Linked DNA regions of Homo sapiens: regions 2, 3 and 4 are each linked to region 1. The links come from fine-mapping of genetic effects on gene expression. A gene starts in region 1. Each other region holds a variant in brackets. All regions are shown on one strand. Distances are between the middles of the regions. Region 1 holds the start of LRP8 (LDL receptor related protein 8). Region 2 has its middle 39 kb from the start of DMRTB1. Region 3 overlaps LRP8 (LDL receptor related protein 8). Region 4 overlaps LRP8 (LDL receptor related protein 8).

Region 1 (2,613 bases):
AGGGTGGTTTCCAGGCCAAGGGCTAACAGCACCTGCCCATCCGCGAGGGAGGTGAAGGGGCAAGAGGGGAGGGAGGGTGGACCTAACACTGGCTCTTGGCACCTGCAGGCCGGTTGTTTTGAGTGGCCAATGCCCTGGAATCTCATTCTCTAAAGAAGGTTGTGTGGGTTGGACCCGGCTCACAAGTCTGAGGCTGAAATCGAATCCCAGCTCGCTCTCCGCACCCATTCTCCCCAGTGTGGGTGAGGCGGGCTGCAGCCCTCCAGAGGAAGAGGTGCCTTCTCCTTCCTGCAGAAGACAGCAGGGGCGGACAGCGCGGGCCTAGGTGCGCGGCCCCTAGCGGCAGGGATGGCATCCCTTCCGTGCCCTCCCCTTCCCCCCCGCCCGGCCCGCCCCACAGACCTCGTCTTTCTCCATCACAGCGAGGATTCCTTGTCTTCCCTGCGGGCCCCCCCTGGTTGCCCCTCTGACTAGGGGCCTGGAGCGTACTTAACGACGATGAATAGTCTGTGCACCAGGCCCAATCCACCTGCCTCACGTCCCCATGATCACATGAGCGTGCAACATGCACAGATGCACATGGCACGGAAACCAAACCAGCCACAGGGATTTATAATATCCCAGCCGGAGCCCATGACAGGTGCAGGGGTCCAGCCCTGCGCCCCCAGCTTCTCCCTGCTCATCCACATCTTGGGATCTCACCCCTATCCCTCCCTCCCCCGCCCCACGCGCACACTGCACAGGCCTGTTCGTCCTGTAACATCATTTCCCCTCCCGCCCAGGCTCACTCCTAGACATCCCTCAGCCTCTGATCCGCCTGTCACCTCCTCCAGGAAGCCTCTGCTGCTTCCTCTGGACCTGCTACCTCCGTGGTGAGGGGCTCGCCTGGCCCATCCCTGCGTCTGCAGAGCCCAGCACTCAGGCGAGCCCAGAGCAGGGCCGTGGAGCGCCCGCTGAGAGAAGAGTGGACGAAAGACAGGAGGGAGGAGGGCGAGGAGGCGGCGGCAGGGGGAGCGTGGGGCGGAGGCGGCAGCGGGAGGGAGCGCGCGCGCTGGCGGCGGCCGCCCAGGGCCGGGGCCGCGCGCCCAGCCTGAGCCCGCCCCGCCGCCGAGCGTCACCGAACCTGCTTGAAATGCAGCCGAGGAGCCGGGGCGGGCGGCAGCGGCGGCGGCGGCGGCGGCGGGGGCAGCGGCAACCCCGGCGCCGCGGCAAGGACTCGGAGGGCTGAGACGCGGCGGCGGCGGCGCGGGGAGCGCGGGGCGCGGCGGCCGGAGCCCCGGGCCCGCCATGGGCCTCCCCGAGCCGGGCCCTCTCCGGCTTCTGGCGCTGCTGCTGCTGCTGCTGCTGCTGCTGCTGCTGCAGCTCCAGCATCTTGCGGCGGCAGCGGCTGATCCGCTGCTCGGCGGCCAAGGTGCGTGCAGCCGGTCTCTGACTCGGCTCTGCTCCGCCCTAGCCACCAACAAAGCGCGGCCGGGAGGCCGGAGCGGGGAGGGGTCCAGAACCCGGGGCTATCGGGGGCTCCCGGGCGGACAGGCTCCACGCGAAGCGGCTATTCCTGAATTTGCCCTCGGCCCCCCGCCCCCGCGGGCCTCGGTGTTGAGGGCTCTGCCCTCTGGGCAGCGGATCTTGGGGGAGGGGTGCAGGGGGGCTTGGCCAGCGGGGAACTTTGCCGGAGGGGCGGCCATTCATGGTTCCGGATGAGCTGTGTGATTCTCGCCGTTGGGGTTTATTTGACACGCGCGCTCCGCGGCGGTAATGAGCAGAGCCGGGCGGCTTCTCCGCTTGACAATGCGTTTCCGCAGACCCCTGCGCGCGGCGGAGAGAGAGGGGGCTGCCTGCCAGGGTGATGTGCCTGCGGCTCCCACTGCGCCTGGCGCGCGGGCGCGGGGACTCCCTATGGGCTGTATCTGAGCAGATCTCTGACTATGGGTCGCGTGTGCGGGTGAGTGCGTCTGAATGGAGGGTATACCCAGGTCGTGTGACACTTTAAGTAGGTGCCTGGTCTCGCCGTGCCACCGAGCGGCCCGACATCCACGGAACCCCTGCCATCGTGCCCTCCCTTTGGATGGAGTGTGCCTGAAGCCCCCGGGGTCTCCATAATCGCCCCCTTTCCTCCTCCCCAGCGGGTCCTTCCGGGTGGCCCGGACTGCATGGTGGGGAGTGGGGCCGAGTCCGCTGATCCAGCTCACGCTCCCTCCCCCTCGCAGGGCCGGCCAAGGATTGCGAAAAGGACCAATTCCAGTGCCGGAACGAGCGCTGCATCCCCTCTGTGTGGAGATGCGACGAGGACGATGACTGCTTAGACCACAGCGACGAGGACGACTGCCGTGAGTGGCGGGCCAGGGAGCTCAGACCCGGGGAGAGAAAAGGAACGGTGGGGGGCACCATGCTTGGCGCGCACGTGGCTGCAGCCGCCGCGCTGCCACCTGCGCGGGACTTGCCGCCGGAGCCTGCGACCGGGAAACCGCCTGGGCACCGCCTCCCTCGGGGCCGGGTGGCTCTTAGCGACCCGGAGCGGGCAGGAAAGCTGGCGTGTCCTGGTGGGGCCGGGGCGGAGCCCCGGGCAGTGTGCCGGAGGAGGAAGGCGCACCATGCTGGGGAGACTGAACCGGA
Region 2 (2,755 bases), 170 kb before region 1:
ACCCCCATTCTATAGGGAAGCAAAGTAAATTACCCCAGATCACACTGAGCCAGGTTTTGAACTCACGTCCTCTCAACTGCAAAGCCCATGCCCTTGGCCACCCTCTGAGCCCCAGAACTTTGCTGTCCCCAAACTCCTGAGGTGAGAGGCACATGCCAAGTTGAGCTGAGACCCTGGGATTGGAAGTCAGCCTGTTTACAATCTGCCTATACCACTGACTGGAGGAAAGTCGCTTCACACTCTGGGCCTTGGTTTCCCCATCTGTGGAGAGGGAGCTATCCTCTTAGCTCTCCTGGCTTCTGGGGAATAAAAAGCACTAATGGACAGGAGATGGGTTTTGCAAACCATGAAAGGCCATGTGCAGCTGAGCTGGTATTATCACTGGAGCCTGGCACTTCGCCTTCATCTGTGGTTTCCTCTGTGTCAGTGAAACCACAGCCACTAGACGGGGAGCAACTCAAGGTGGGGCCCGGGGTGAGGAGCTGGAGCCTGAGCCCCCAGTGGAGAAGTGAGTGGGGGTCTCCAGCTAGGAAGGAAAGGGTGGGAGGTGGAGAGCAGCCCCAGGGGGCAGTCACTAAGCCCCATGCAGGGCAGAATGCCAGGAACACAGGCTCCACGGGGCCCAGACACCGTCCCTCGCCAAGCAAGACACAGGCTGTGCTGCAGCCATCTCCACGGGGCCTGGGGTTTCCTGGGGGCTCTGTGCCCAGGTGTCCGGAGTGCAACAGGCACACACTGCTCTATTACTGATGGGGAAACTCAGGGTCAGGGAGCTGGTGGCTCTCAAAAGATGGTGAGACCCAGGCTGGGCAAGGTGGCTCACATCTGTAATCCTAGCACTTTGGGAGGCCGAGGAGGGTGGATTGCCTGAGCTCAGGGGTTCGAGACCAGCTTGGGCAACATCTCGAAACCCCATCTACTAAAACTACAAAAAACAATTAGCCGGGCATGGTGGCACATGCCTGTAGTCCCAGCTACTCAGGAGACTGAGGCATGAGAATCGCTTGAACCTGTGAGGGGGAGGTTGCAGTGAGCTGAGATAAAGCCACTGCACTCCAGCCTGGGCAACAGAACAAGACTGTCTAAAAAAAAAAAAAAAAAAAAAAAAAA[AG/G]ATGGTGAGGCCCAGAGTGTTGACAGCAGGGATTCCAGAGTTCCCAAAATCTGAGTTCCAAAACCCACGCAGCCATGCTCCGACTGGGGTCTTGAGCAGGTCACCTCACTGAATCTGAGGTTCTACTCTGTAAGATGAGACGATGCCTCCTCTATTGGTGGGTGGATCAAATGGGGCGCTAGAGTGAGGGCTTGGTACATAGTAGGTGCTCAGGTGTGAGTATTTTCGTTCGAGGACTGCCCATTTAGATGAGTGCCCTAAGCATTCTCCTCATGATTTGAAATCAAGTTCCATGGTACAAGTGGGGAAACAGTCCCGGGGAGATGGCCTGACTTGCTGGGGACACATGGCCATTTGGTGGTGGGTCTGGTCTCAGGACACCCAGGGCAGTGCTCAAACCACCCCATGCTGTCTTGGGCAGAGGCCTCACTAGTCAGCACATCCCAGCTTGTCTACCCAGGGCCTTGTACCTTGATTCAAATTCTGGCTCTGGAGGCAGGGCGTGGTGGCTCATGCCTGTAATCCCAGCACTTTGGAAGGCCAAGGCAAGTGGATGGCTTGAGCCCAGGAGTTTGAGATAAGCCTGAGCAACATGGTGAAACCCCATCTCTACCAAAAATCCAAAAACTAGCTGGATGTGGTGGTGCATGCCTATAGTCCCAGCTACTCAGGAAGCTGAGGTGAGAGGATCACATGAGCCTGGGAAGTCAAGGCTGCAGTGAGTGAGCTGTGATTGCACCACTGCAATCCAGCCTGAGAGTGGAGACCCTGTCTCATTAAAAAAAAAAAAAAAAAAAAAAAAATTCTGGCTGTGCAGCCTTAGACAAGTCGCATGCCCTCTTTGGGCTTCAGTGTCTTCAACTGAGAAATGGAAAACTATGATGTTGTGTTGAAGAGGACATGAGAAACCAGGAGTGGCAGCATTTGGTGACCTTGGAGAGCCACGGACAGAGTGGGAGAGGGGAAGAAGTCTCCATCTGTCGATTCAGCAGTTGAGCAATTTGTCATACTCCACTGTGTTTTAAGAAGAGTCGGAGGCTGCTCCAGGTCTTCTTACACCCATTCAACAAGGTAGGCTCCTGCAAGCGTGTTTCAGGGCTGAGCACCCAGAAGTGCCCCCAACATGGCCTCCCTTCCCATAGCCTGCAAATCTCTGTCTTTTTTCTTAATTTCTCTCTGTGCACTTAATGTGCTAACGAAATAGTTAATTCCACAGTGCCCTCTTGACAATTGGACATATGTCCAGGAATGGGCATTACTTTTAGCATCTCCCCAAGTAGGTTGATAATTAGGGAGGGAAAATCCTGCTGTTGCCAGAAACAGAGACAGAATGTGACCCTGCCAGCTGATGGGCCTAGGCTGCCCGAAGGCAAAGCCATCACTCCAAGGTCAAGAGACCTTCTACAGTCCATGCTGCCTACCCTCATCCATTGGCCAAGAACCTCCCTTGGTCTCCCCAACTTCCAGGTCTTGCTCATGACAACAGGAATTTTTTTGAGCCCCTCCATGTGCCAACCACTTGACATATGTTAACTCATTCACTCTTTAAACGAGAGAGAGAGAGAGAGAGAGGGAATCTAGGCTCAGAGTGCCAGACCAGGTCTGCAGGGCCCAAAGATTGCTCTCCCTTCTCCTGGAACAAGC
Region 3 (2,755 bases), 35 kb after region 1:
AGTCCTGTAACTTGTGTAAGGTCACATAGCCTACAAGTGGCAGGGCGCAGTTTGATAGACCATGGACTGTCTGGCACTTTCCTTGGCCCGTGTTCTTGTTATAAATAGCATTTCCCACTTCCTTTGTCCTGGATTTCCCACTCTCCCCTACTCTACCCTGGGGTCAGCCCCTCCTCACTGCCCCTAGAATCCCCTAGTCCTTTGTGGCAGCCCATCTGTTGCCATGGCACCAGATTATGATGTCGCAGACCCTGGTTGACTATGTATCACTCCTGGGCTGAGGGACTCACAGAGGTGGGCATTGTCCAAGGGGCAGACTGGCATGGGGGGACATAAATCCCTGGAAACAGGGAGCCATGGCCTTGAGCCCAGCTGGGGAATCACCCTGGGAACCAGAGCCAAGGCCAGCAGAGTAGGGGTCTGGCATGGCTTTCTCTGACAGCCTTAGAATGGCGGCACAGCCCTCATCTCATGGCAGGGCTGATATGGTCTCTTCACGAGGGACTATTGGGCTCATTGCACTGAACGGCCTGACACTGGGTGTTCACCAGGATCCCCCAGAAGAGTCTTTTTGCCTTTTGTCCTTGTGACAAAGCTGCATGGGAAAGCCACATCCCCACTTGCCCAGGTTCACCCCGAGGTGGCTATGCCAGGAGTCAGTCTCCACTCTGACTCCAGATCCTTCCATATGGTCACACTTCCAATGGGGCCCTCCAGCGTGCTTTAGTCTAGTCCCCACCCTGAAAGTGCTGTCCATTAGCAGAGCAAAAGCCGTCCCAGGCCTGGGTTTATTCTGCTGCACACTTCTGGGCACATTCCAGGAGACCTGAGAGATGTTTCAGTACATTTGAGGACTCTCTGGGGTCCTCATTCTTAGCCTGGTAACACTGAGGTGGCTGAGGGTCTGAGTGGAAAGAGATCAAGCTTTGGCAGCTGCCACACACAGTTGAAATCACACTTCTGCCACCTAACACCCTTACCTCTAAGCCTTAATTTCCTCTTCTGTACAATGGGATTAATAACAACAGCTACCAAGATAGCTGTGAGGAGTCACTGGGATATTGGGTGAAAGGTGCCAGGCCAGAGC[C/T]AGAGTGGAAAATCTCCAAGCTGGTCCAGCCAGTGAACAAATCTGTTCCCAAAAACACCACCGAATCTGTTGCCAAAAACACCACTCTCCCTGCAGCTGCCATTTCCTGGGCGGGGCTGACCTCAAAGCTGCCCTTTGGGACAGCAGTGGTGTTTTTGGCTGCTCTGGCCTCCTTGCCCAGTGCCTGCCAGGGCTTGGCACATGGAGGAGGACAAGATCACCCCCAGGCTTTCAGAATCCCAGGGAGGGCAGGGTTTTTGGGGGGTATCTGGTTGTCCTGTGCCCAGCAACAGAGCCCCATCATCACCTTCTTCAAGCCTGCCCTGCTGTTTTGGGCACTGTCTGACCACACATCCTTGCCAGACTTGCCTACTTGCTCTTAATTCCCAGAGACTGGGCTGGGCTGATTCTGTGTTCTCAGTGCAGAACGTAGAACAGAAGCAAGGTTCATTGAATGTGGAACTGAAGCTTGCACAGGGCTTTCCCACCTGCTGTAAGGTTTTTCTTCCACATTTGGTACTGCTGAATGTTTGACTGGGGAGCCGTGGTGGAGATGAGCAGGCATCTGACTGTGGGTTCAGACTGTGACCCTGCTCCCCCCAGCTGTGACCTTGGACATGTAACTTAACATCTCTGGGTCTGGATTTCCTCATATGTCAAATGAGTACATAGCAGGCCCCCTGCCATGAGGTTTCTTGGGTAAAAACACCTGGCAGAGACTGGCACAGAGGAAGCACCTAGTGAGTGTTAGAACGAGAAAAAGAGAAAACTAGGATATACGTTTCTTTTTTTGGATGCTGAGCTTCTTGTGGGGGGAAAACCACTGGTGTTCACATTAGGAAATTCCCCAGGTGCTGTGGTTCATATTGGTACTTACTTTAAGATGATTATGGACTATGATTTACCAATAGGTGGTATTCGCATCTATCATTGACGATGACCTCTCAGTGCAGGAAACAGGGAGGGCCTCTCCAGAGCCCTGGGCTGAGAGGCAGGAGAGCTGTTCTTATCCCTGCCATGCTGTATTTCCCTCAGCCAGCCCCTTTCCCTTTCTGGGCCTCAATCTACCCATCTGAAGGTGGACTCTGATTCCTCAGGTTTCTTCTAGTTCTGCACGTACAGAGGCATTCTTCTAAGCAAAGTGTGAAGAAAACTCATCTTAGAATGCAGATGTACTGCAAAGATTCCACTGAGAAGGACAGACATGGAACAGATTCAGAGACACAGTCTCTCTCACCAAATCCTTGCCAGGCTCCCCAGAGGAGGGGGAGCAGGCCTGCAGCCCCAGAAGCACCCAGAGGGCCTGTGGGTAGATTTGAATAAAGGTGGTCCATGGGAGTGGCTTCCCAGGGAGAAGGCAAGCCCCAGAACTGTAAGTATGGAGCAGAGGCTGGGGGGCTGTGCTCGCATTTAGCTCAGTGTCCCGCACTGAGACCTACCCCAAGCTGGATTCTTGCTGAATTTGACAGTCTCTGTGCTGCAGGGACAGGGAAGAAAGCAAACCATGTTGGACTCGCAATCAGTGATGATCTAGAGCAGAGGTCATCAAAATACAGGCCACAGGCCTGGCCTGTCACCAGTTTTTTGTAAATAAAGTTTTATTGAAACATAACCATGCTCACTCATTTATCTAATGTCTCTGACTGCTTCTGCCCCATAGTGGCAGGA
Region 4 (2,500 bases), 22 kb after region 1:
GTTAGATTTTCATGGTGGCTCAAAGTGGTTCTGAGAGAGTACCACCCCCCCTACTCAGTATTGCTCAGGGGGCAAGGTCAGGATTCCCACTGCACATCCTGTGTTCTTCCTGTTTCAAGGAGGAGATATCAGGGCTGCTGGAGAATGCTGGGCCTGATAGTCCTCTGACTGCTGTGTGACCTGGGCCCATCCTGTCCCTCTCTGAACCTCAGGGGTGATTGTAAGAACTAAATGAGGAGACATATACAAAGGGCTTCGTAAACCAGGAGATGAGGTGAGGTGATGTAGACAGATGAGGGCCTGGCCCAGAGATGGCATCACAATACGATCAGAGCCAAAGCTGAGGCCCAAGTTCATGTGTCCCAGGGTTTCCTGAGGAGCAGGCCAGGAGGTGGGACCCAGGACAGAGGCAGGTGCCCTCCCAGCCTTGCAGACTCTGAACCTGTCCTCAGAACCATCTGCCTGGTGCCAGCACTCTCCTCCAACTCCAGCCCCAGACACATGGCTCATGGCAGTGAAGTAAAGCAGGAACAGACCCAGGGAGCAGTGGGATCCAACCCCTCAACTGGTGTTGACGCTGAGGCCCAGAGAGGGGGAGTGGCTTACTCAAAGCCACGCAGCAGCTCGGGGGGTAGAGCTGGGACCAAAACCCAGGCCTCCTGGCCCCTGGCTCTGTTCTCCTTGGTACCATACCACTGTCTTTGGCAAGAGAAAGAGGACACAAGAGCTAGTTCACATGCCTGGAGAAAAGGATGTGGGAGTGCCACCCAGCTAGACAGCACTAGAACAGACCAGAGCCCCACTTCCTGCATGAATGGAGGATCTGAAGCAAGGCTTCAATGATTACTGCTTTTCCTAGGTATGCAGAATGCTGGAGGGTAAATAGGGTTTGTGTCCTGGGCTGTACATTCTGTATAGATGGAAAAGCCCCAGGCTTCCAGATTGCCTGCATGCGATGCCTTCAGCACACGCTTCCTCAGTGCCTGCCTCCACCGAGCTGCTAGTCTGGTAGAGAAAGATGGTTGAGTGCCACCAACACAGGATGATGAGGCTGTGGATCAGAAGAGGTCTCTGATCCCACATGGGGTCGTGGAAAGCTTCCCAATAGAATAGAGAAGGGGAGGAGGGTCCTCCACTCCCAACTCCCAGAGAGTGAGGAATGTGTGCGCCTCAGACACCCTGGCCCCCTGGCAGTCTGGGCCTCATAAGAGCTCATGCTTGGGCAGGCTCACCGTTCACCCTGGA[G/A]TGGGTGGCTGGGTGCCTTCCAGCTTCCTCCTCAGCGCCTCTCCTGTGCCAGGGCCCATGCACGTGGGTGGAGGAGAGGCCATTCTAGAGGCCCCTGGCTCCCTGTGGGGCTGAGGAGAGACTAGTGTGGGGGCAGGGGTGGAGGTGCAGGGAAGCTGGTGGCCAGACCTCCTGTGACCTCCACTCATTGCCTGTGTGTCCAGGTGGGCCAGTCTCAGCTGCCCCGCTTGGCGTTATAACCATTGTGGTGTTAGCCAGGGACGAGGCTTCTGAAGTAGCCTGCACTGTGAGCCCCGCTGGCTGCCAGGTAATAATTCCACCCGCCTTGACCTTTTTCTCCAAGGAACAGGCCTTCTACTTTATACATGGAGAAAACAAGTCACAGAAGAACCAGGTGGCCCAGGATGACAGAGGCTAGGCCTCCAGATGCCCTTTAAAAATTGCAACAAAAACCTCTTAAGGACTCACTGTGTACAAAGCCTGGTGGTGGGGCTGCCACAGCGGCTGGGATAAAGGGAGGAGGAACTTCGGTCACTGAATATTTTCTGTGTGCCATCCCTTATGTCGGGCACTGATAGACGTGATCTAGCAACCAACTGCCCTCCGAGTCAGGATCTACCACCACATTTTTAAATGAGGAAACATGGGCTCAGAGCGGTCAGGTAGCCTGCCTGAGGTCGCTTAGCTAGTAAGGGACAAAGGCGTGATTTGAGTCCTGCGTTCCTTCACCTGTTTTTGTGGGAGAATGGCCATGTCAGGCAGCAGACTGGGATCTTCCAAACCTTAGTTCTGGGAGGAAGGTTCACTTGCAGGAAAAACCAAGGTGAGTGGAATCATCTTCAGGCAGCCAGCAGTGCTCACTGGGCAGGCTGTTTAAAAGTGGCTTCCTCTTCAAGCTGTAGTGGGACCTGTCTTACTGGGGGAGCCATGCTGGCTCAGAACCCCTAGGCTGATGGGCACCCCTCTGTAAGGGGCTCTGAGAAGTGGCCGGTGTGGCTGAGGTCTGGGCCAGGATGCCAGTGGGCGGTGAGGGTTTGCTGGGCACATGACCCCACACCTTTCCTCTTCTTGCCTCCCACAGCCATGTCTGTCCCCTTCTGCCCAGCTCTGGTTGGAGGTGCTGAGCTGGGGCTTGTGGCCATGAACCATCCCCATACTGCTGGCCCTGGGGCTGGCCTCAGATGGGTGGGTGGTCCCGGCCAGAGCCCTGAACCCCGGCCCTGCCAGAACCAACACCTGGAGACATGGCCACCTC

The links. PIP is the estimated chance that this variant, and not a neighbour inherited with it, causes the effect.
Region 2: its variant is fine-mapped to the expression of LRP8 in monocytes after LPS (Quach 2016, PIP 0.95).
Region 3: its variant is fine-mapped to the expression of LRP8 in breast (GTEx, PIP 0.98).
Region 4: its variant is fine-mapped to the expression of LRP8 in lung (TOPMed, PIP above 0.99). The same link has a PIP of 0.9 or more in thyroid.

What each region holds. Positions count from the first base shown.
Region 1 is chr1:53,326,587-53,329,199 of GRCh38, reverse strand. LRP8 (LDL receptor related protein 8) reads left to right here and starts at 1,130. Exons shown (of 19, transcript NM_004631.5): 1 at 1,130-1,411; 2 at 2,208-2,327. The coding sequence starts at 1,288. LRP8-DT (LRP8 divergent transcript) reads right to left here and starts at 967. Exons shown (of 3, transcript NR_131923.1): 1 at 825-967. RefSeq lists enhancers at 694-923, 1,974-2,083 and silencers at 994-1,193, 1,264-1,413, 1,464-1,633, 2,149-2,443, 2,464-2,523.
Region 2 is chr1:53,496,589-53,499,343 of GRCh38, reverse strand. No RefSeq gene overlaps it. Among named protein-coding and RNA genes, the nearest start is that of DMRTB1, 39 kb to the right of the region's middle. The variant AG/G (reference allele first, on the strand shown) is at 1,111.
Region 3 is chr1:53,291,733-53,294,487 of GRCh38, reverse strand. The region is part of intron 2 of LRP8 (LDL receptor related protein 8); the gene reads left to right. LOC105378726 (a long non-coding RNA gene) reads right to left here. Exons shown (of 6, transcript XR_007066090.1): 3 at 1-2,755. Among named protein-coding and RNA genes, the nearest start is that of LRP8, 35 kb to the left of the region's middle. The variant C/T (reference allele first, on the strand shown) is at 1,088.
Region 4 is chr1:53,304,638-53,307,137 of GRCh38, reverse strand. All of the region lies in intron 2 of LRP8 (LDL receptor related protein 8), which reads left to right. All of the region lies in intron 4 of LOC105378726 (a long non-coding RNA gene), which reads right to left. Among named protein-coding and RNA genes, the nearest start is that of LRP8, 22 kb to the left of the region's middle. The variant G/A (reference allele first, on the strand shown) is at 1,246.